3 linked regions of the Homo sapiens genome follow. The protein of the gene in region 2 purifies or fractionates together with the protein of the main gene of each other region. This does not show direct contact. Each region holds a gene or a part of one and is shown on either strand. Other genes may lie near its edges.

Region 1 (7,605 bases), on a different chromosome or scaffold from region 2:
CCCCGTCTCTACTAAAAATACAAAAAAAATTAGCTGGGCATGGTGGTGCATGCCTGTAATCCCAGCTATTTGGGAGGCTGAGGCAGAATTGTTTGAACCTGGGAAGTAGGGGTTGCAGTGAGCCAAGATTGCACCACTGTACTCCAGCTTGGGTGACAGAGCGAGACTTCATCTCAAAAAAAGAAAAAAAACGGTCAGTGAAAAGTATCTAAACTGAAACAGAGAAGAAAAAAAGAAAGAAAAATGGAGAGAATATCCAAGAACGATGGTACAATTAAATCATCTAACACATGTGTCATTAGAATCCCAGAAAGAGAAAATGGGGCAGAAGAAATATTTGAAGAGGAAAAAGCCAAGAAATTTCCATAAATTATGAAAGATATCAAACTGCAGATCCAAGCAGCAAAGAGAATAGGCTAAAACACATACACACAATGTATTCAAACAGCTGCCCTAAGAGAAAATCTTAAAAGCAGGGGTGGAGGGAGGTGGAGGGGAAGGTGGTGAGAGCAGCACACATTTATGCATTACATACAAAAGAAAAAAGACAGTTATACACTAGACTTCTCAAAAAAACTATGAGAGCCAGAGACAATGAAGTGTATTTTTTTAAAGTACTGAAAGAAAACAAAACACCACTGACCCAGAATCTTATATACGGTGAAAAATACCAGACAGTGGTTGCCAGGGGTTAAAGACAGGGAGGTATGGAAAGTGACTACTAATGGGTGTGGTTTTATTTGGGGTTGATAACAGCATTCTGGAATTAGTGATGATGGCTGCACAACATTTTGTGGGGTTTTTTTTGTTTTTTTTTTTGATAGAGTCTCACTGTGTCACCTAGGCTGGAGTGTAGTGGTGTGATCTCGGCTCACTGCAACTTCGACCTCCTAAGCTCAAGTGATCTTCCCACGTCAGACTCCCAAGTAGCTGGGACCACAGGCACGAGCCACCATGCATGGTTAATTTTAGAGCCACTGTGCCTGGCCAAGGTTTTGAATATACTAAAAACCACTGTACATTTTAAAAGGGTGAATTTTATTATATGTGAATTATATATCAATAAAAAGCATGAATTTTTTTTTTTTTTTTTTTGAGATGGAGTCTCACTCTGTCGCCCAGGCTGGAGTGCAGTGGCGCCATCTCGGTTCACTGCAAGCTCTGCCTCCTGGGTTCATGCCATTCTCCTGCCTCAGCCTCCCAAGTAGCTGGGACTACAGGTGCCCGCCACCACGCCCGGCTAATTTTTTGTGTGTTTTTAGTAGAGATGGGGTTTCACCGTGTTAGCCAAGATGGTCTCGATTTCCTGACCTGGTGATCCGCCCACCTCGGCCTCCCGAAGTGCTGGGATTACAGGCATGAGCCACTGTGCCCGGCCCTGATGATTTTTTAAAATAAAGAAATAGATACTTTTTCAGACAAAAAAAAAATCAGAATTTATTACCAGCAGACCCACACTACAAGAAAAATTAAAGTCCTTCAGGCAGAAGGGCTGTAATACCAGAGAGAAAACTGGATCTATACAAATAAGTGAAGATCCATGGAAATGGCTAAAATGAAGGTACGTGTACAAAGACTTTTCTTATTTTTTACCACTCTAAAACATAATTGACCATCTACAGTAAAATAGCAATGTATTGTAAGTTTATAGTATATGTAAAAATAAAATGCATAACAGTAGCCCAAAAGACAGGAGGAACTGGGAGAATACTGTTGTAAGGTATTTTCAATAGTAATGTAGTGTATAAAGACAGAATGTTATTAACTTAAAATGTATGCTGTAAGCTGTAGGGCAACTACTAAAAACATTTATTTATTTATTATTTTTTTTGAGACGGAGTCTCACTCTGTTGCCCAGGCTGGAGCACAGTGGCGCAATCTTGGCTCACTGCAAGCTCCGCCTCCCGGGTTCATACCATTCTCCTGCCTCAGCCTCCCAAGTAGCTGGGACTACAGGCACCCACCACTGCACCAGGCTAATTTTTTTTTTGTATTTTTAGTAGAGACAGGGTTTCTCTACTGTTAGCCACGATGGTCTTGATCTCCTGACCTCATGATCCGCCCGCCTTAGCCTCCCAAAGTGCTGGGATTAGAGTTGTAAGCCACTGCGCCCGGCCTAAAGACATTTTTTGAGAGGCAAAAATAATAAGCCAATAATAGAGATGAAATGCAATTATAAAAGATTATTCCCAAAACAGAAAGATCAGGAGAAAAGGAACAAAGAGTTGATGGAACAAATAGAAAACTAGCAAAACAATGGATTTTAACCCAATCACATCAATAATTACATTAAATTAAATGTTCTAAACACAAATTAAAAGAATGATTGTCAGACTGAATCAAAAAGGAAAATCCAACTATCTGTAGTGTAAAAATTAAGTTCAAGTCCAGGCGCAGTAGCTCATGCCTGTAATCCCAGCACTTAGGGGGTGCTGAGGCAGGCGGATCACCTGAGGTCAGGAGTTAGAGACCAGCCTGGCTAACATGGTGAAACCCTGTCTCTACTAAAAATACAAAAATTAGCCAGACATGGTGGCACGCACCTGTAATCCCGGCTATTCAGGCGGCCGAGGCAGAATTGCTTGAACCCAGGAGGTGGAGGTTGCAGTGAGCTAAGACCACACCATTGCACTCCATCCTGGGCAACAAGAGTGAAACTCTGTCTCAAAAAAAAAAAAAAAAAAAAAAAAAAGAATTAATGTATATTAAGCTAATACACATTAAGTTCCTAGAAAGAGTAACTGACTAGTAGTAAGTGCTTAATATTTGCTATTATAATTGATAGATGTTTTATAAATTAATCTTGTCTTGTACCAAATCATTTGTGTGTTACTAGACTGGCTAGACTGGGAATTTTCTTTTTTAATTTATGTTTTATTTCAATAGGTTTCTGGGGAACAGGTGGTGTCTGGTTACATGAATAAATTCTTTAGTGGTGATTTCTGAGATTTTGGTGCACCCATCACTGATAGGGAATTATCTGAGGGTGAGGCAAACTCTCTTGACTACTGAAACTGCCCCAAAGAGTTAAAAAACAAACAAACAAACAAAAACACCAATGACTAAATTCTTGGGCTTACAGGATAGCACATAAGAAAATAACTTGCTGAAACAGTGAAACTCCCTCCGCTTGTAAGATAACAAAACTGGCTGAATTGGTTGGAACCAATAACTGACTAGAGTATATGCAAAACAAGCTTGCTTATATCACAGCCTGAATTTCCACCACATTTCACACTAACTCCCCCTGAATTTGCACATGAGACCTATATGGAGGCAGGAAGAGATAACTGCACATACCTGAAGACTTTCCAGGCCTCCCCTTTCCTTCCACCAATCACCTACTAATCCCAGAATCCACTCCCTAAACATTTTTTTAATAAAAGTACTCCTTAAAGCCAGCTAGGGAGACAGAGTTGAGCTGGACTCCTGTCTTCTTGTTAGTCGACTTGAAATAAAAAACTTTTCTCGGCCAGGCGCAGTGGCTCACGCCTGTAATCCCAGCACTTTGGGAGGCCGAGGCGGGTGGATCACAAGGTCAGGAGATTGAGACCATTCTGGCTAACACCGCGTCTCTACTAAAAATACAAAAAATTAGCCGGGCCTGGTGGCACACGCCTGTAGTCCCAGCTACTTGGGAGGCTGAGGCAGGAGAATCGCTTGAACCCGAGAGGCAGAGGCTGCAGTGAGCCGAGATCACGCCACTGCACTCCAGCCTGGGCAACAGAGAGAGACTCTGTCTCAAAAAAAAAAAAAGAAGAAAAAAAAAAACTTTTCTCTGTTACCCAGGCTGGAGTGCAGTGGTGCAATCTCGGCTCACTGCACCCTCCACTCCCCACCCCAGGCTCAAGCTATCATTCCACCTCAGCCTGCCAAGTAGCTGGGACCAGCTACTCAGTATCATGGTATTGGCTTCTAGCACATTGGGTAGCAAGTCCCTTTTACTCGGTAACACTATTTCCAGTCCCCAAAATGAGATGACAGGTGAACAAACAATTCCCAATTTTAACAAGCAAACTGCTAAGAACTCAGGTGCTTTAGCAGTGTCAGACTAAATAATCTAATTAAAAATAAAACATGATGTTGGCATGTCAGATTTGTTTTCAATCTCCTGATAATGTTTTAACATGAACAGTTCAAATTATGTCTTACAGTGAAAGGGTTTTTGTTTCATTTTTGAGATGGGGTCTCACTCTGTCACTCAGGCTGGAGTACAGTAGCACGACCTCAGCTCACTGCAACCTCCACCTCCTGGGCTCAAGTCATCTTCCCACCTCAGCCTCCCAAGTAGCTGGGACCACGCCCAGCTAATTTTTTGTATTTTTGGTAGAGATGGGTTTTCGCCATGTTGCCCAGATTGGTCTTGAACTCCTGAGCTCAAGTAATCCACCTGCTCTGGCCTCCCAAAGTGCTGGGATTACAGGCATGAGCAACCGTGCCTGGCCTGAACCACTGCGCCCAGCCACAGTGAAAGTTTTATGAAGGAAATGTTAAACGTAGAGTTGTAATATGACCTAGCAATTCCACTCCTAGGCATCTATCCAAGAGAGATGAAAACAAATCCATGCAAAACTTGTACATGAATGTTCATAGCAGCATTATTCATAATAACCAAGAAGTGGAAACAATCCAAGTGTCTATCAACTGATGAATGAATTAACAAAATGTGGTCTGTTCTTACAAAAAGGAATGAAGTGCTGATCCATGCCAAACATGGATGAATCTTGAAAACATTATGCTAAATCAAAGAAGCCAGTCACAAAAGACCACATATTCTATGATTCTGTTTTTATGAAATGTCCAAAATAGGCAAATCCAGAGATGGAAAGTAGATTCGTGTTTGACAGGGGCTGGGCATAGTGGAGAATAAAGAGTGATTGCTAATGGATATGTAGTTTCCTTCTAGAGTGATAAAAATATTCTAAAAATAGAGGTAATAATTGCATACTTTGAACATACTAAAACATTCCTGAATTGCACATTTTAAAAAGGTGAATTTTAAGGTGAATTATCTCTCAATGAGCTCATTTCATTTCATTTCACTTTATTTTATTTTATTTTGACAGAGTCTTGCTCTGTCGCCCAGTGCAGTGGTGTGATCATAGCTCATTGCAGCCTCTATCTCGTGGGTTCAAGTGATCCTCCCACCTCAGCCTTCCGAGTAGCTGGGACTACAGGCACACACCACCATGCCCAGCTAGTTTTGTATTGTTTGTAGAGACGGGGTTTCACCATGTTGCCCAGGCTGGTCTCAAACTCCTAGGCTCAAGCAATCTTCCCGTCTTGGGCTCCCAAAGTGCTGGGATCACAGGCGTGAGCCACCGCACTGGGCCAAAGCTGTTATTTTAAAATAAATAAATAAAACTATGGGGAAGAAAAAAATGTCCTTTGGATTAATTTGTTTCCCTGTGCCTTTCCAAATATATATTGTGAATGCTGATAATGATACCTTCTCTGTCTTGATTTGAGGAAAATAGATGAAGTATGGCTGCCTCTGGTTTGTTCCCTGACATCGCTGCCACTCATAGAATCCATCTGCTAAAACGACACAGCGTCTTCCCTTTCCCAGAGGCACCTGAGGGAAAATGTGAGCAAGATATGGTCTTAGTGATACAATCATGTTTCACAGGCTGCCATTACTTGGAGAACTTGAATTAAAATCTGAGGTTTGGGCCAGGCGGGTGGCTCACGGCTGTAATCCCAACACTTTGGGCGGCCGAGATGGGAGGATCACTTGAGGTCAGGAGTTCGAGACCAGCCTGGCTAACAAGGTGAAAGCCCATCTCTACTAAAAATATAAAAATCAGCTGGGCGTGGTAGTGCACACCTGTAGTCCCTGCTACCTGGGAGGCTAAAGCACGAGAATCACTTGAACTTGGAGGCAGAGGTGGCAGTGAGCCAAGATCATGCCACTGCACTCCAGCCTGGGCAAAAGTATGAGACTCCATCTCAAAATAAATAAACAAACAAATAAATACATAAAATCTGAGGTCTGCCAATGTATGACCTTAAAACAGTTATTTAATTTCTCTGTACCTCTCTTTTCTTTTTTTTTTTTTTTTTGAGACGGAGTCTTGCTCTGTCGCCCAGGCTGGAGTGCAGTGGCGTGATCTCGGCTCACTGCAAGCTCCACCTCCTGGGTTTACTTAAGCCATTCTCCTGCCTCAGCTTCCCGAGTAGCTGGGACTACAGGCGTCCGCCACCACGCCCGGCTAATTTTTTGTATTTTTAGTAGAGACGGGGTTTCACCGTGTTAGCCAGGATGGTCTCGATCTCCTGACCTCGTGATCCGCCCATCTTGGCCTCCCAAAGTGCTGGGATTATAGGTGTGAGCCACCGTGCCCGGCCACTCTCTTTTCTTATGTATAAAGAAAGTCACAACTCACATAGATGTTGAAAAGATTAAATAATGTACATAAAAGCAATCACCTCTTTTCTAACAAATAGGTACTTGTCATAGCTAGTCTTCAAAGGTGCCTCCCCAATGAAGCATGCTTCCCAGTATTCACACCCTATGTAGACACCTCCCACACTGAATTTGGGCTGGCTCTGTGTAACCCATAGAATGCAACAGAAGTAGGCCGGGCGTGATAGCTCACACCTGTAATCCCAGTACTTTGGGAGGCCCAGACAGGTGGATCACTTGAGCCCAGGAGTTTGAGACCAGCCTGGGCAACATAGCCAGACCTTGTCTCTATTTAAAAAAAAAAATTAAACAATAACAATAAAAGAATACAGCATAAGTAATGCTGTATGACTGCCAAGATTAAGTGATGCTGTAAGACAAAGGCTTATATCTTCTGTCCTGCTCTGTTGGATCATGAGCTCTGGGGTAAATGAGTCACCGTAACAGAAGCCTGGCTACCCTGACACCCTCGAGCTAGGCATATGGAAAGCCTTCTAGTTGTTCTAGTCATCCCAGCTGAAGGGTCAGATGTGGGTGAAGAAGTCATCTTGGACATCCAGCCTCAGCTGCCATCTAACTGCAACATGAGAACTTCCAAGTGAAAACTGCCCAGATGAGCCCAGTCAACCCAGAGAATATGAGAGATAATGTTTATCATTTTGTTTCACACTACTAAGTCTGGTGTGGTTTGTTATGTAGTAACAAAATAGCATTCCACATTAACAACTGGGAACATTCTTTTTTGTGTTATTTATTTATTTTTGGTTGTCCTCTGTAGGCTAGGATGGAAACACCCTTTGGAACCTTATTTCTGAGGTATACGGGGCACTAATAGCTACCAGCCACCTACCTTAAATGACCGTTTCTCCATTACGGTATCACTACGACAGTTGGTAGTATTGAACTGCAGCTTGGAAGGATCACTTTCTTTGAACCAAGAAGGGACCAAGCCCCAGCGCATGGGAGCAATGATACGCTCAGATGAGTCTGCATCCTGCCACGGAGAGAAGATCTAGTGAGGAGATCATAATGAAATTCTAACCTAATTTAACATATGTATTTATTACATTATTTAGGAGTATTGAAATATAAAGAATTCAAGATTATTTTTAAACAGGGAATCTACTTGAAAACAATTTTTTTATTTTTTTTGAGATAAGGTCTGGCTCTGTCATCCAGGCTGGAGTGCAGTGGCGCTA
Region 2 (7,577 bases):
TATAAAGTTATATATTCTCTGTCATGCTCTAGTAGATTGTTTGCTTCCATTCCTTATAACCAGAGAGGATCCTAAATTTTATAATTTAAGCTTGTTTCTAAGACTTGGGTGGGGAGTGAGCCACAAAGTGATGGGCTGGCTCACTTGTCCACAAGGAGTACCTCGGCCATAACCATATGTCCCAATTAGACTAATCCTGTAGGGAATCAATTAGAAAAAGGGAACCAACATTTTCTCAGTAGATTATTCTGTGTCCATGAGATGCCCAATATAAAATACCTCTGAGCTGTCCTCAGCATACCATACAGTGTCTCAGTTTACCTGTTCTATATTCAGCATCTCTGAATATATTACAACTGAAAGTCTCAGAACTATAATATTCTGAAGCAAAACTAAGCTTAGAATCTTCAGCATGTTGAAACTCATCACTCATCTACCCTTTTGTTTATTCTCTATCCATCCATCCACCCAACCATCCATCCATTCATTCATTCAGGAAATATGTATTGAATGCTTACTTAAGCACTGTCTTAAGATCTGAGGATATAGTGGTGAACAAGGCAGGCAAGAATCCTGTCATAAGAGCTTATGTTTTAGCGCAGAAGACAGTAAACAACTAAATTACAAAAATAAATTTTCATAGAGGTAATACTGTAAATGATATTTAAAATGGTGTTGCGATGATAACTAGAATGTGGGGTGGGGAGAAGACTATGGAGCTGAGATTAAAATGATGGGAGCCAGCAATGGAGAGGTTGGGATAAGGGTCTTCAAGGCAGAGAAAACTGCAAAATACAAAGGTCACGCAACAGGGTTAAATTCCATATACAATCCTCTAGGGGAAGATTAGTGGTGCCTTTTTATATATTAATTTAGAAATAACTTTGAGGATTATATGAAAGCGGTATGTGACTACAGACTTGAAAATTTTAATTCGTTTTACTAGTAGTTTTCAGACTGGCACATGTAGTAAATAGATCCCTTGTTACTGATGAACTTTGTGTTGTTGTAGAAAGTGAGTTGGCCGAGCAAAAATAAAACTATAATTTTGAATTTGCAAAATTATGCTTTAAATATTTACTTGCTATTATTCCTTGTGAAATAATAGATGGATAAGGAAGTTACAGGAATATGGACATGATCTCTCGGTGATGGTTTTACTTACTGTGCCATTTAGGTGATGATGATTCATCCAGTATACTTTTTTATTTGTGGAGGAGACGGAGTCTTGCTCTGTGGCTCAGGCTGGAGTGCTGTGGCGGGATCTCAGCTCACTGCAACCTCCACCTCCCGGGTTCAAGCTATTCTCGTGTCTTAGCCTCACGAGTTGCTGGGATTACAGGCATGTGCCTCCATGCCAGCTAATTTTTGTATTTTTAGTAGAGATGGAGTTTCACCACATTGGCCAGGCTGATTTCGAACCCCTGACCTCAAGTGTTCCACCCGCCTCAGCCTCCCAAAGTGCTGGGATTCCAGGCATGAGCCACCGTCCCCGGCCCATCCAGTATATTTTTAACGTCTACTGTGTCTCATAACGAAGCAAGAAATACCAAGTCAGTGGCCATTATACAAAATATGGGAGCTCAAAGTATGAAATCGTATTCCTTGTTCTGCAGTTATTATGGAGAAGTTCAATAATAACACACTTTTATTGAAGCTCACTAAATTCATGACCGGTGTTAGTTATGTGGCATAGATGGAGTTCCCAATGTAGAAGTGAGACAGACACAAATAATGACCTCTACCACAATATTTTAAGTGCTATAATAATTATAATATTGCCACAGCGCTAAGGGAATAGAGTTCCCCTATATGTTATAAGCCTTTATCAGACTTTAAAAATTTAGCATCTAATGGGATTTTTGAAATTCAGAAATTAAGAATGATTAACACTTTCTACATTGAGGAGGCATTCTCAATAAAAACCCAAATAGTGTGAAATCATAGGGAACTCATTTCTCATTATTAACATTTTTTTAAATGTCATATCCTCTAATGATAATACCTCTACCCAATGGGGAAAAATTCCTTTCCTTATGATCTCCTTATAATATTATATTTCCTATGATAGTATATCCTTATGATGTTATTTTATAGTAAGTATCCTTAGATGCTTAGCAGAAACTGAGTGTAATTTTTATGAACCTGTAAAATGGGACTCAAGCTTGGAGTCTTAATTCAGGGATATACATTTACAGTATAGGAAAGGGGCAATTATGATTAGGTACGTCTAGAATGTGAAACTATCAGTTGTTAGTATAGTGAATGTGTTGACAATATTTTCCTCCCAGCCTTTTCCCTGAACTACTTATATAGTTATAGCAAGATGATGAAGTTAAGGAGCTGTGATGAGATGAGTTCTAGAAACAACTCCATCTATATTGAAAGTTAAGTTAAAAACTAGTCACTATCAGATAAATGTATTTAATGACTTTTTAAGATTAATCTACAACCTGAGAGTACCAGAAAGGAATAATTGGGAACTGGTGAATGCTTTCAACTGATTTGATTAATTAACATGCTAATTGGAGACTATATTGTTTTACATTTTAATAACTGTTTTCACTTATTTTTTTTAGAAAGGCTGATACTCTGATATCTTTCAATAGATTTGGGTTATGTATAATGGTATATATTAAATTTTATTTGCTGGATTTTGTGGAATTGAATATACATATCTTAACTAGGAAAATTAATAAGATGATTTTTGAATGCTTATCCTCTGGGTTAAGGAGGACTAGCTAATATTAATTCTAATGCCTGAATTGTAAATTTAAGCACCCCTGTCAATGACACTTTATGTAATTCAAGTTCATATTCTATTCAGGTCATGAGCACCAGCACTGTAATTTTTTTTTTAAATGAGGTTGAGGAAAATGTTGAGATATATACAACACAATTTTACTATATCAATTCTGTGATCAAGAATTTTTAAGTGTGTAGCACTCTGCACACATTTTTATATAACAAAATAAATATTCTATGCATTATTTTACTTAAATTTTTTTTGAAACATTGTCTAAAATGGTCTCTTTGTTTATTTTATAGGGTGGGCTGAAAAACAGCAAACATGAATGCACCCTGTCTTCACAAGAATATGTTCATGAATTACGATCGGGTATATCAGATGAGAAACTTCTTAATTGCCTAGAATCCCTCAGGGTTTCTTTAACCAGCAATCCGGTCAGGTAAGTCGTTCTTATCATTTCGGTATGATTCATACAATTTGTAGTGCATATAATTGTTTGGGAATATAATAAGTTTTGTTATTTAAACCTCAAGATTTCCTGACTAAAAATCTGATGTTAATAAAACAGCAGCATCTGATTGTGAAGTCGTAAACTTTTAAAAATATATTTAGTTAGTTGGATCTCTAGTAATGTACAATTTTAAGAATACAAATGTTAACATAGAGCCAGAAGTTAAATATCCACATTTACATGGAAATCTATTTGTGGGATCAGATAATTATTATATATTTATTTATAAAGCAAATTAAGTATATTTGCTCCATGATTTTATTCTTTTTTTTTTTTGTGAGACAGAGTCTTGCTCTGTTGCCCAGGCTGGAGTGCAGTGGCACGATCTTGGCTCACTGCAACCTCTGCCTCCCAGGTTCAAGCAATTCTTCTACCTCAGCCTCCTGAGTAGCTGGGACTACAGGCACGCACCATCATGCCTGGCTGATGTTTGTATTTTTAGTAGGGAAGGGGTTTCACCATATTGGCCAGGCTGGTCTCGAACTCTTGATCTCGTGATCCACCTGCCTTGGTCTTCTAAAGTGCTGGGATTACAGGTGTGAGCCACCGCGCCCGGCCGATTTTATTCTTTTAAAACTTGAAAGGTATATATAACTTTATGTTCTTCTATAAGTTTTAGATATACTCTTCACATATTTCTGTAATTTTGAGATAGCAAAAAGTGAATTATTTTAACCAGTAAAAGAAGTGAGAGCATTAATAAACTTCTCAAAACTCTACTAATTTAGGCTATTAACTAACTACAAAGGATTGTTATTAGGTTACTTGCCAATGGTGGATTCCAGTAACTGTGGTTCCTTTATTAAGCCTTTAAATCAATAACACCCAAAATAAAATGTTTTATAAAGAAAAATAAAATTTCAATAAAATATCAAAACATTCTTGGCCGGGCGTGGGGGCTCACACCTATAATCCCTGCACTTCAGGGGGCTGAGGCAAGTGGATCGCTTGAGTCCAGGAGTTCGAGACCAGCCTGGCCAACATGGTGAAACCCCGTCTCTACCAAAAATACAAAAAAGTCAGCCAGGTGTGGTGATGTGCGCCTGTGGTCCCAGGTATTCACGAGGCTGAGGTGGGAGGATCACCTCAGCCCGGGAGGTGGAGGTTGCAGTGAGCCCATATCCCGCCACTGCACTCCAACCTGGGAGACAGAGCGAGACCCTGTCTCCAAAAAAAAAAAAAAAAAAAAAAAACAAAAAAACAAAAATCCGGGATCTATTTATGTAACTACTAGAATCTTAAGTTCAGAATTTACTCCATAAGAGTATATAAAAAACTTACTGTGATTTTATCCATGTTTTTCCTAATATATAATAGGTCTAAGTCTTGTACTTTTCTGTCCTGTCCACAGAGCCTTGAAAATAATTTAGAGCTCAGTCATTCAGTTTGGATTTATGTATAAATTGAAATATATTAATTACTTATTTATAGTGCACTTGGCAAAATGCCCAGAAAATTACAATTTTAAAACAACAAAAAATTTTTTAAAAGCCAGTGTTAAGATGTGACTTATCTTAGAGTATGATAATCGTTGAAAGACGATTGTCTTGCCATTTCTTCCAAAATGCTCCTAGGTTTTTTGTTTTTTGTTTTTTGTTTTTTTTTTTGAGACGGAGTTTTGTTCTTGTCACCGAGGCTGGAGTGCAGTGGTGCTGTCTCGGTTCACTGCAACCTCTGCCTCCTGGGTTCAAGCGATTCTCCTGCCTCAGCCTCCCGAGTAGCTGGGATTACAAGCCTGCACCACCACGCCTGGCTAATTTTAGTATTTTTAGTAGAGACGGGATTTCACCACGTTGGCAGGCTAGTCTCGAACTCCTGACCTCAAGTAATCAACCTGCCTCAGCCTCCCAAAGTTCTGGGATTACAGGCGTGAGCCACTGCGCCCGGCCTGATGCTCCTAGTTTTAATGGTTTGAATGAACAGGGGACGTGAGTTCTTGAGAACAGTAACTACGGTGGTGCATTTTTCCCCCCTGCACGTAACGTACAGCACTCTACCGTTTTGCCAAGCACTTTGTGCTCCTAAAATTTCTGTTGCATTGTTGTTTGAATGAATGAATAAATGAGTCTTTTAAAAGTAATTGTAGAAGTTGCAGCATTAAGAAATAAAGAGGGGGGCTAGTAAAAATGCATTTTTATAGAGATGTTGGGAAAGGCTTGCTTGAAATTACACGTGGGACTTTTAATAGATAGGCGCTTTGACCAGCTAAGCAACAGGGCTCCCCTCGTGTGGGACTTTTAGAATGTAGCAACCACTGACACACAGGGAAGGATTATGCGATCAGGTGAGAAGGTGGCCGACCCTGACTGGCTGGAAGCAGATGCATTCTGGTAGTTGATTGGTCCACAGGTAGCGTGACGCTTGTCACGTCCTCAGCCTCCCAGCATTCAATCGTAGCCTTTCGGACAGCTCGAAGCCTTCTGTGGAGAGCTCGAAGCCTTCTGTGGAGAACTCAAAGCCGTCCGTGGAGCCCCAGACGAGCCAAAGCCCACCTTCTCCTCAGCCTGAGCTGTCTTGAAGATGAGTAAGAGTGGGTTTGGGAGCTATGGCAGCATTTCTGCTGCTGATGGAGCGAGTGGAGGCAGTGACCAACTGTGTGAGAGAGATGCAACTCCTGCTATTAAGACCCAAAGACCTAAGGTCCGAATTCAGGACGTTGTACCGTGTAATGTGAACCAGCTTCTCAGCTCTACTGTGTTTGACCCTGTGTTCAAGGTTAGGGGAATTATAGTTTCCCAGGTCTCCATCGTGGGGGTAATCAGAGGGGCAGAGAAGGCTTCAAATCACATTTGTTACAAAATTGATGATATGACCGCGAAACCAATCGAGGCCCGACAGTGGTTTGGTAGAGAGAAAGTCAAGCAGGTGACTCCATTGTCAGTCGGAGTATATGTCAAAGTGTTTGGTATCCTCAAATGTCCCACGGGAACAAAGAGCCTTGAGGTATTGAAAATTCATGTCCTAGAGGACATGAACGAGTTCACCGTGCATATTCTGGAAACGGTCAATGCACACATGATGCTGGATAAAGCCCGTCGTGATACCACTGTAGAAAGTGTGCCTGTGTCTCCATCAGAAGTGAATGATGCTGGGGATAACGATGAGAGTCACCGCAATTTCATCCAGGACGAAGTGCTGCGTTTGATTCATGAGTGTCCTCATCAGGAAGGGAAGAGCATCCATGAGCTCCGGGCTCAGCTCTGCGACCTTAGCGTCAAGGCCATCAAGGAAGCGATTGATTATCTGACCGTTGAGGGCCACATCTATCCCACTGTGGATCGGGAGCATTTTAAGTCTGCTGATTGAGGCAGGGAAAACATCCTTTCATTTTTCGAAGACCCTTGCATCCAGCTGTGAGTAATTTTGACCTGTTGACTTTTTAGGAAGTAGGACTAAAAAAAAAAATCTCAAGTGGCATTCTTTGTCAACTCGCTGCTTTTCTAACTGCTTTGAACTTTTCGGATTTTCTGTATTTGAAGCTCAGAGAGAGACGGTGATGGATAAATTGACAACTCTGTAGGATTTACTAGCAAGCTAATGGAAACATGATTTTCGGGGAAGAAAAACTACAGAAAATGTAGAAATTTATTATTTAATTGTGTTGGAGCTTCTTTTTCCAAAAGAAAAACTAGTTGCAGTCAGGGAGCCAGCGAAAAGACAAAAAAAAAAAAAAAAAAAAAAAAAGTCTTGCTTGTTTTTATGTTAGACTTATTTTCCGTGTTTGGATTTAGCTTATTATAATGATACTGTTATCTCTTGCTCAATATAGTATTTAGTATTTGATTAATTCAAATGAGCTGAAGATACTAATTTGTGAATTCTAATGCTCAGTTCAAACATTTATGTGTGATTTGCTCTTATTACTATGAATTTATGTTTTCTTAAAATAAGATTATACTGTGTTTAAATAAACCATTTTTGCCAGGTTATCTTTGAAATTTTTTAAAATGTGGTGAAGTTCAATGATTATTTCATATATGATGTGGTATTTGGATGAAATTACAATTTATTGTAGTTGTATGGTAAATGGATGCCAGAGTTTCTGTAAGTTTGATGTGCTGGTGTATTATTTATTTTACTAAATGCTCTGTTTTATGTATAAAAAGGTAATTTTTAGGACGTTAGGGAAACAGCTCATAGGAATATGAAACTTACTGAGTTTAACACAAATTTATTCAAATGTTTTATTAAAGTAGTTTACAAAATCTTAACTTTCCTGTGTGATTTTTTTTTCTAAGTACATTTGAAAAAGCCTTTTTGTTTTATATCCTTGAGGATTAATAGTTTCACTTATCCAGAATTTTTTCTTTTCTATAT
Region 3 (8,386 bases), on a different chromosome or scaffold from region 2:
AAATCTTACTAGTTTCCTTCAATTACTGATCTTTTTGATTCTGAATTTCTTTTTTAAACAACTCTCAAGATCCACCTCTTTGAATAAGGTAGGAAAGAGAAATCCTCAAGACAGTGAAGTTCAATAAAGTCTCACCTTTCCTTCAGAACCCACCCTCTTTTTCAAGTCATACCCCTTGCTCCTTGACACCCTGTCTTATTTAGTATCTCATTCAACAAATATCATTGAAAGCTAGATACTGTTCCAGGCATTGGTTACAGAGCAGGAAACAAAATACACAAAGCCCTGGCTCACTTGGAGCTTACAGTCTATTGGAGAGAGTCAGATCTCCTAAAAATTAAACAAATATATGTTAAGTTGTAATTAGTACTCTGGAAAAAAATAAAGCAGAGTAAGAGGCTACAAGTGATAATGGGAGTGATGTTATTTATATCAAGGAAGGCACCACTGCTACTAAGAACAAAGACCTGAAGAAAGTCAGGGATCAATCTTGTTAGCTGGAAGAAGAGTAGACCAGGTAGAGAGAACAGAAGCCTGTAGGGAGAAGAGTGACTGGTATGTTTGAGACAAAGTGGAAAGAGGCCAGAGTGCCTAACAGGAGTAAGCAAAGGGAAAAATAGTAGCAGATGAAATCAAAGCACTGGGGTAAGAAGCAGATCATATAGAGCCTGGTCAAGCCACAGCATTTGAGATGGGGAGCCACTGGAACAAAAATCTAACATGATCTAACTTTCATTTTATTTATTTATTTTTAAATTTATCTTATTTTTTAGACAGGGTCTTACCCTATTGCCCACACTGGAGTGAAGCAGGGGAATTGCTTGAAACCCGGAGGCAGAGGTTGCAGTGAGCTGAGATCACACCACTGCACTCCATCTGTAAAAATAAAGTAATTCTAGATAACGTGATGTCTTATCAGAAAATACTATAGCATGCTTTTTTTAAAGAACTTTTTTTTTCCTTTTGAGAAAGGGTCTTACTCTATCACCCAGGCTGGAGTACAGTGGCATGATCACAGCTCACAGCAGCCTTGACCTCTCAGGCTCAAGTGATAAATTATACAGCTAATTTTTGCACTTTTTGTAGAGTCGGGTTTCGCCATGTTGACCAGGCTGGTCTTGAACTCCTGGGCTCAAGCAATCCTCCTGCCTGAAGTTCTGACTGCTGAGATTACAGGCATGAGCCCCCACACCTACCCTAAAGGACATTTTAAAATCATAACTAGAATATCATTATTTTAAACCTAACTAGAATACCATTATAATATCTAATAAATAATTCCCTAAAATCATCCAATTTCCAGTCCATATCCACATATCCCCATTTATTGCTGGCTTGTTCAAACCAGCATCCAAACATTGCATTTGGCTGTTAGGCTTCAAATGTCTCTTTTACTCTAAAACAGTCCTAACAATTTTTTTTTTACATAATAGTATGAAGAGAGTAGGCCAGTTGTCCTGTCGAATATTAATTTGTATTTTTCATACTATGTGAGCCTGAATATCTTTTCCATGCACTTATTTATCAAATGCAAACTGTTTATTAATATCTTTCATCCACTTATCTATAGAGGTTTTGGTTTTAATTATGAAAATAAATTTGTTGGTTTCTTCCAGGCTTTTTTTGTTTTTGTTTTTCAGACAGAGTCTCGCTCTCGTCACCTAGGCTGGAGTGCAGTGGTGCGATCTTGGCTCACTGCAACCTCCGCCTCCCCAGTTCAAGCTTCTCCTGCCTCAGCCTCCTGAGTAGCTAGGATTACAGGCACCCACCACCATGCCCAGCTAATTTTGTGCTAGAGAGGGGGTTTCACCATGTTGGCCAGGCTGGTCTCGAACTCCTCACCTCAGGTGATCCGCCTGCCTTGGCCTCCCAAAGAGGTGGGATTACAGGCATGAGCCACCGCACCCAGCCGGTTTCTTCCAGTTATTGGTGACATGCTTCAGTACTATTTTAGTTACACTTGTTCTGTATTTGACTATAAAGAAGTTATATCTTCACAATATATTTTCAGTAATTCTCACTCTGACCACCATAATAACTAAAAAAGAAAAAGAATCAATAAAAACTTTAAAAATACATTTTTAAAAATGTGTGTGGGATGGTAACTACTGTCATGAAACAGAATACATTAGCCTAGTAGATAACAACATAATTTGGAGTCACCCAGATCTGGCCCTGCCTTTTAGGAACTGTATATTATGAGCTGAATTGTGTCACCTCAAAATGTATGTATTTGAAGAACTCTCATTATCTCAGAATCTGCCTGTATTTGGAGATAGGACATGTAAAGGGGTAATTAAGATAAAATAAGGTCATACGGGTTGGGAATAATCCAATATCACTGATGTCCTTATAAGAAAAGGAGATTAAGGGCCAGGCACCGTGGCTCACGCCTATAATCCCAGCATTTTGGGAGGCTGAGGCGGGTGGATCACTTGAGGTCAGGAGTTTGAGACCAGCCTGGCCAACATGGTGAAACCCTGTCTCTAATAAAAATACAAAAATTAGCCAGGTGTGGTAGCCCACGCCTATAGTCCCAGCTACTCAGGGGACTGAGGCAGGAGAATCGCTCAAGAACCTGGGAGGTGGAGGTTGCAGTGAGCCGAGATCTTGCCACTGCACTCCAGCCTGGGCAACAGAGCAAGACTCTGTCTCAAAAAATAAATAAATAAATAAAATAAAGGAGATTAGGACATAGATGCACAGAGAGGAAAGACAGCATCCATCTACAAGCCAAGGAGAGAGGGAGGCAGGCCTTAGAAGAAATCAGCCATGTCAAGACCTTTACCTTGGGCCTCTAGCCGCCAGAATTACGACAATGTATGTAGTTATAGCAGCCCTAGCAATACACTGTGTGATCTTGAATAAATTAAATTTTTCTAAAGCTCAGTTTCCTCAACTATAAATGGAGATAATAACATATGCCTCATGAGGTTGTTGTGAGAATTAAATAATGTATGTAAAGCTCATAGCATAGTAAGAACTAAATAAATTCTGGCTATTATTCTTATGAAGATTAAATGAGGTTATGCATGTAAAGCATTAGCTCAGCCTCTAGTACACAAGAAAGTTCTACTAAGTATTAGCTATTTTTAATAAATTTTCATTTCATAAAGGCTTATATTTTTCCTATCTCCAAAGTATTTCCTTTTAGACCTAGTCTAATTTATTTGTGTCATAATTAAGTCAGATGTAACAGGCTTTGTACCGCTGAAACAGGTTAAGCAATCCTATCCAACAACATTTATTGAGCACTTACATTTTGTTAGATTTATTTCCAACTACTTGATATGCTTTGGTGTTATTGTAAATGCTACCTTATCCAAAAATTTTATTTATAGTTGTTTGAAGCTCTTTTATAAGCATGGAATTTATTTTCACACGCTATTTTCTATCAGTCTTGCTAGGCTTTGTATTAAGGTAAAATTTTTATCCTGTAGTTTCTTCTAGCTTTTAAAATATTCATAATCAAATTACATGCAAATAATGAGATTTTGGGTTTTTTCTTTCTAAACTTTACATCTTTTGATGAACAAAAATTAAAATGTATCAATTTTTTTTTCTTTGTTTTTTTCAGACGGAGTCTCACTCTGTCACCCAGGCTGGAGTTCAGTGGCGGGATCTCGGCTCACTGCAACCTCCGCCTCCCGGGTTCAAGCGACTCTCGTGCCTCAGCCTCCCAAGTAGCTGGGATTACAGGCGCCCGCGACCACGCCTGGCTAATTTTTCACTTTTTTTTTTTTTTTTTTTGTAATAGAGACGAGGTTTCGCTATTTTGCTCAGGTTGCTCTATAACAGATACTATGCTATCCTAACAATATGTTTCTAAATGATATTAGTGCCAAAACCAGGATTACCCAGTGATTTTGTTAATACAGGCTTATTGAATCGGAGGGTCTGGGGTGGGGAATTTGCTTAAGTATGCAGTCCCCATACTCGGTGATTCTCATGAAGCCAAACATTTGGGCGCCCCTCACCTGATGTCACCAAGAACCAGAAGACCAATTAGAATTTTCGTGGGCTTCCTGCCCCATGGTTCCCTCTGTTCCCAAAGGGTTTCTGCAGTTTCACGGAGCTTTTCACATTCCACTCGGTTTTTTTTTTTTTGAGACTCGCTCTGTCGCCCAGGCTGGAATGCAGTGGCGCGATCTCGGCTCACTGCAAGCTCCGCCTCCCGGGTTCACGCCATTCTGCTTCAGCCTCCCAAGTAGCTGGGATTATAGGCGCCCGCCACCACGCCCGGCTAATGGCTAATTTTTTGTATTTTTTTTTTTTAGTAGAGATGGGGGGGGGTTTCACCGTGTTAGCCTGGATGGTCTCGACCTCCTGACCTTGTGATCCGCCCGCCTCGGCCTCCCAAAGTGCTGGGATTATAGGCGTGAACCACCGCGCCCGGCCCGGTTTCGTTTTGTTTTTTTTTTTTTTTTTTTTTTCCAAAAATGGGCGGAGGAGAGTAGTCTGAATTGGGTTATGAGGTCCCCTGCGGGGTACCTCACCTCAGCCATTGAACTCACTTCGCTGGCCGTGAGTCTGTTCCAAGCTCCGGCAAAGGAGGCATCCGCCGGGCCCCTCCCCGAAGGGCGGGGTCCACGGCATCTCCTGCCCAGTCTGACCTCGCGCGGAGCCCCGTTCTCTGGGAACTCACCTCCCCGAAGCTCAGGGAGAGCCCTGTTAGGGCCGCCTCTGGCCCTAGTCTCAGACCTTCCCAAGGGACATGGGAGTGGAGTGACAGGACGCACTCAGCTCGTGGCCCCACTGATGAGCTTCCCTCCGCCCTATGGGAAAAAGTGGTCTCATACAGAACTTATAAGATTCCCAAATCCAAAGACATTTCACGTTTATGGTGATTTCCCAGAACACATAGCGACATGCAAATATTGCAGGGCGCCACTCCCCTGTCCCTCACAGCCATCTTCCTGCCAGGGCGCACGCGCGCTGGGTGTTCCCGCCTAGTGACACTGGGCCCGCGATTCCTTGGAGCGGGTTGATGACGTCAGCGTTCGAATTCCATGGCGGCGCGGCGGCGACGGAGCACCGGCGGCGGCAGGGCGAGAGGTTCGGAGCTCAATATCGCGGGACGGCATGCGGGGGGCGGGCAGTCAGAAAGGAACGATGCCACCTACTGTGACCCCCTTCCCCTTCCAGCTCCCTATAACCTGCACTTGGCTACCAAACCAGTTGGGGTGCTAAATTTTGTAAATTTCGGTTTTCAGAGCTTTGGGGATTACATAATTGTGCATAAAGCCTTGCGGAGCTGTAACAACTAATGTGCCAGTACTGTTGTTAATACCTAATGTCATCCAATTTACAAAAAGTAATTGTAAGGCACACCATTATTTTATACACAACAAAGGATAAGCACTGAAAATGGTGAACTGTGATTCACTGCTTATGTCATCCATTGTAAGATGCATCCCAGTTCCAGAGAGTAAAATGCGAGTCTTAGACCTATTGAGATACGGTATTATGTGTATAATGTTCTTAAATGCATAGGTGCACCCTATAAATTAGGTTCTATTGTACTTCTCTAGAAGTACAGTATTGTACAATATTCTAATATTGGAGTAAGTGAAGTAGGAAGAGATCAAATACTTCTCCAAGTTTCCACAGAGAAAAGCAGCAGAGCTAGGCTCTAAATTAGGCACAGACCCTTGAGCACTTAACTAACCTTTATCCCATACGGCCTCATGTATGAGGTGGGTATTTGGGGGACATTGGGACACAAGTAAAACAGATAAGCAGGCCTCAATCTATGAGCTTACAAGACTCCTGGGACTCCCTTTTATTTTGTTTTATTTCATTTGGCTAGAATAGCAATTTAGGAAGAATTACACAGACTGTTACACAAAAGTAGTGTGGGACAGTTGTTATTGCCTCTGTAAACTTAGAAAATTATCTTAAACCGGCGGGGTGAGGTGGCTCACGCCTGTAATCCCTTGGGAGGCCGAGGAGGGCAGATCACTTGAGGTCACGAGTTCGAGACCAGCCTGGCCAACATGGTGAAACCCTGTCTCTACTAAAAATACAAAAATTAACTGGGCATGGTGGTGCACGCCTGTAATCCCAGCTACTCAGGAGGCTGAGGCACGAGAATCACTTGAACCCAGGAGGCGGAGGTTGCAGTGAGCCAAGATCGCACCACTGCAGTCCAGCCTGGGCGAGAGAGTGAGACTCCACCTCAAAACAAAAAAAGAGAGAAAATTATCTTAAACCATTTCTTTAAAAGATTTTTTTCAATCTTTAAAATCTACACGTATTCGGGTGTGTACTCATTCTTTGCTAATTTCCAAATTCTGTAGCATTAAATGAAAGCAAAAGAGTTAATAATGGCAACACGGCTCCAGAAGACTCTTCCCCTGCCAAGAAAACTCGTAGATGCCAGAGACAGGAGTCGAAAAAGATGCCTGTGGCTGGAGGAAAAGCTAATAAGGACAGGACAGAAGACAAGCAAGATGGTATGCCAGGAAGGTCATGGGCCAGCAAAAGGGTCTCTGGTAGGAGTGGATCTGGGGATGATATCTTGTTATTTCAACTCCTATTTCGTCCTTCTTTCAGGGAATAATTAATTTCTCTATCCTTTGGGCATACCACAGCACTAATCTACTGCCTTGAATCTTCATTTTCATGTATTTGAGATGGATTGGGGTCTAAGGAAAGACCAGGATTGGTTGGGCGGGCAAAGTTAATCCTGACAAGTTTCTGTTTTACCACAACAGCTGTTTTTGATTCCCATAAAGTAGTACCTATCTGTCTTTCCTCAGAATCTGTGAAGGCCTTGCTGTTAAAGGGCAAAGCTCCTGTGGACCCAGAGTGTACAGCCAAGGTGGGGAAGGTAAGAGACTCTGGAACCGATCTTCAGTCCATGGATATCTCAGAGAGCATCCTTTGTTATAAGGACTCCTGTCTGGGATGCTGTTAGTACTCATTTTAGGAATCCTCTCCAAAATATGATGAGTGAGTAGTTTTCTCTAATGGCAAGAGATAGGAGTGGTAGGGCTTGGGGTTAATAATCAGGGTGTTTTTTAACATGGTGTGTTAGACCATTCTTGCATTGCTGTAAAGAAATACCTGAGACTAGGTATTTTATAAGAAAAGAGGTTCCTAGAGGCTGTACAGGAAGCATAGCAGTATCTGCTCCTCAGGAGACCTTAGGAAACTTTTACTCATGGCAGAAGGTGAAGCGGGAATAGGCACGTCACATGGCAAAAGCAGGGGAGAGAGAGAGAGACAGAGAGAAAGGGAGAGAGAGAGATTGGAGAAGGTGTCACAGAGAGAGAAAGAGAGAATGGGGAGGTGTCACACGCTTTTAAACTACCAAATCTTGTGTGAATTCACTCACTATCAAGAGGACAGCAGCAAGACAGTGGTGCTAAACCATTCATGAGAAATCCACTTCCATGATTGAATCACTTCCCACCAGGCCCCACCTCCAGTACTGAGGATTACAATTCAGCATGAGATTTGGAAGGAGACAAATATACAAACTATATCACATGCGTACCTTTTGTGGTTGCCATCAGCCTTCTACACCTCATTCTCTTTTTAAACCAGAAAATGGTATCATTGTTAAGGGAAAACTGTTTTCTTGTTCTAATGAGAAACTGTACCCTGGAATGGCATGAGTTACTGATGAATGGGGAAAAAAGAAGGCTACCTCTGGAATAAGTTTTCTTTAACTCAGTTAGAATCTTTTTTTTTTTTTTTTTTTTTTTTGAGATAGAGTCTCACTCGGTCACCCAGGCTGGAGTGCAGTGGTGTGATCTCAGCTCACTGCATCCTCCACTTCCTAGGTTCAAGTAATTCTCTTGCCTCAGCCTCCCAAGTAGCTGTGATTACAGGTGCCCACCACCACGCCCAGCCTGGGCTAATTTTTATATTTTTAGTAGAGACGGGGCTTCACCATGTTGGCCAAGCTGGTCTCGAATGCCTGACCTCAAGTGATCTGCCCACCTTAGCCTCCCGAAATGCTGGGATTGCAGGCATGAGCCACCATGCGCAGCCTAACTCAGAATCTTTTGTATAGTTAAAAAAAAGGAAGCATGTTTTCATTTATAGTAAGGTTACACCCAGGTTACTGGTAGAACATAGGTTTGCAATTCTTTCCTTGGGAGATGAATGTTGATGTTGCTGTAGAATGATGACTTGAGCCATAAGAAAATTTAGAGCCTCATTTAGGATGTCAGGGCTGAACCTATACTAATGTTGATTTTTTCTCTCTCTCCCTTTCTAGGCTCATGTGTATTGTGAAGGAAATGATGTCTATGATGTCATGCTAAATCAGGTAAGAGGCAAGAAGAGGTGGCACCATTATATTTATGAGACCATCTTCTTGATAATTATTGATGATAGCATCACAGTGTTCAGATCTTTAAAGTCCCTTTTTTTT

Evidence for each region. Proteins that work in one complex are often made in the same cells at the same time.
Region 1: the proteins of RPA4 (region 2) and HMCES purify together in Homo sapiens (affinity purification with mass spectrometry; 3 studies listed by BioGRID and IntAct, with this or other methods). This does not show direct contact.
Region 3: the proteins of RPA4 (region 2) and PARP2 purify together in Homo sapiens (affinity purification with mass spectrometry; 3 studies listed by BioGRID and IntAct, with this or other methods). This does not show direct contact.

The regions. Positions count from the first base shown.
Region 1 is NC_000003.12:129,288,649-129,296,253, reverse strand, and holds part of HMCES (abasic site processing protein HMCES), read right to left. Parts: intron 7,401-7,605; coding exon 7,257-7,400; intron 5,576-7,256; coding exon 5,450-5,575; intron 1-5,449.
Region 2 is NC_000023.11:96,878,531-96,886,107, forward strand, and holds RPA4 (replication protein A 30 kDa subunit), read left to right. Parts: upstream 1-5,377; 5' UTR 5,378-5,780; coding exon 5,781-6,566; 3' UTR 6,567-6,937; downstream 6,938-7,577. Other genes in the region: DIAPH2 (protein diaphanous homolog 2), read left to right, coding at 3,049-3,188.
Region 3 is NC_000014.9:20,338,633-20,347,018, forward strand, and holds the start of PARP2 (poly [ADP-ribose] polymerase 2), read left to right. Parts: upstream 1-5,002; 5' UTR 5,003-5,009; coding exon 5,010-5,055; intron 5,056-6,299; coding exon 6,300-6,455; coding exon of another isoform or gene 6,456-6,494; intron 6,495-6,761; coding exon 6,762-6,832; intron 6,833-8,230; coding exon 8,231-8,281; intron 8,282-8,386. UniProt on the Homo sapiens protein: Poly-ADP-ribosyltransferase that mediates poly-ADP-ribosylation of proteins and plays a key role in DNA repair.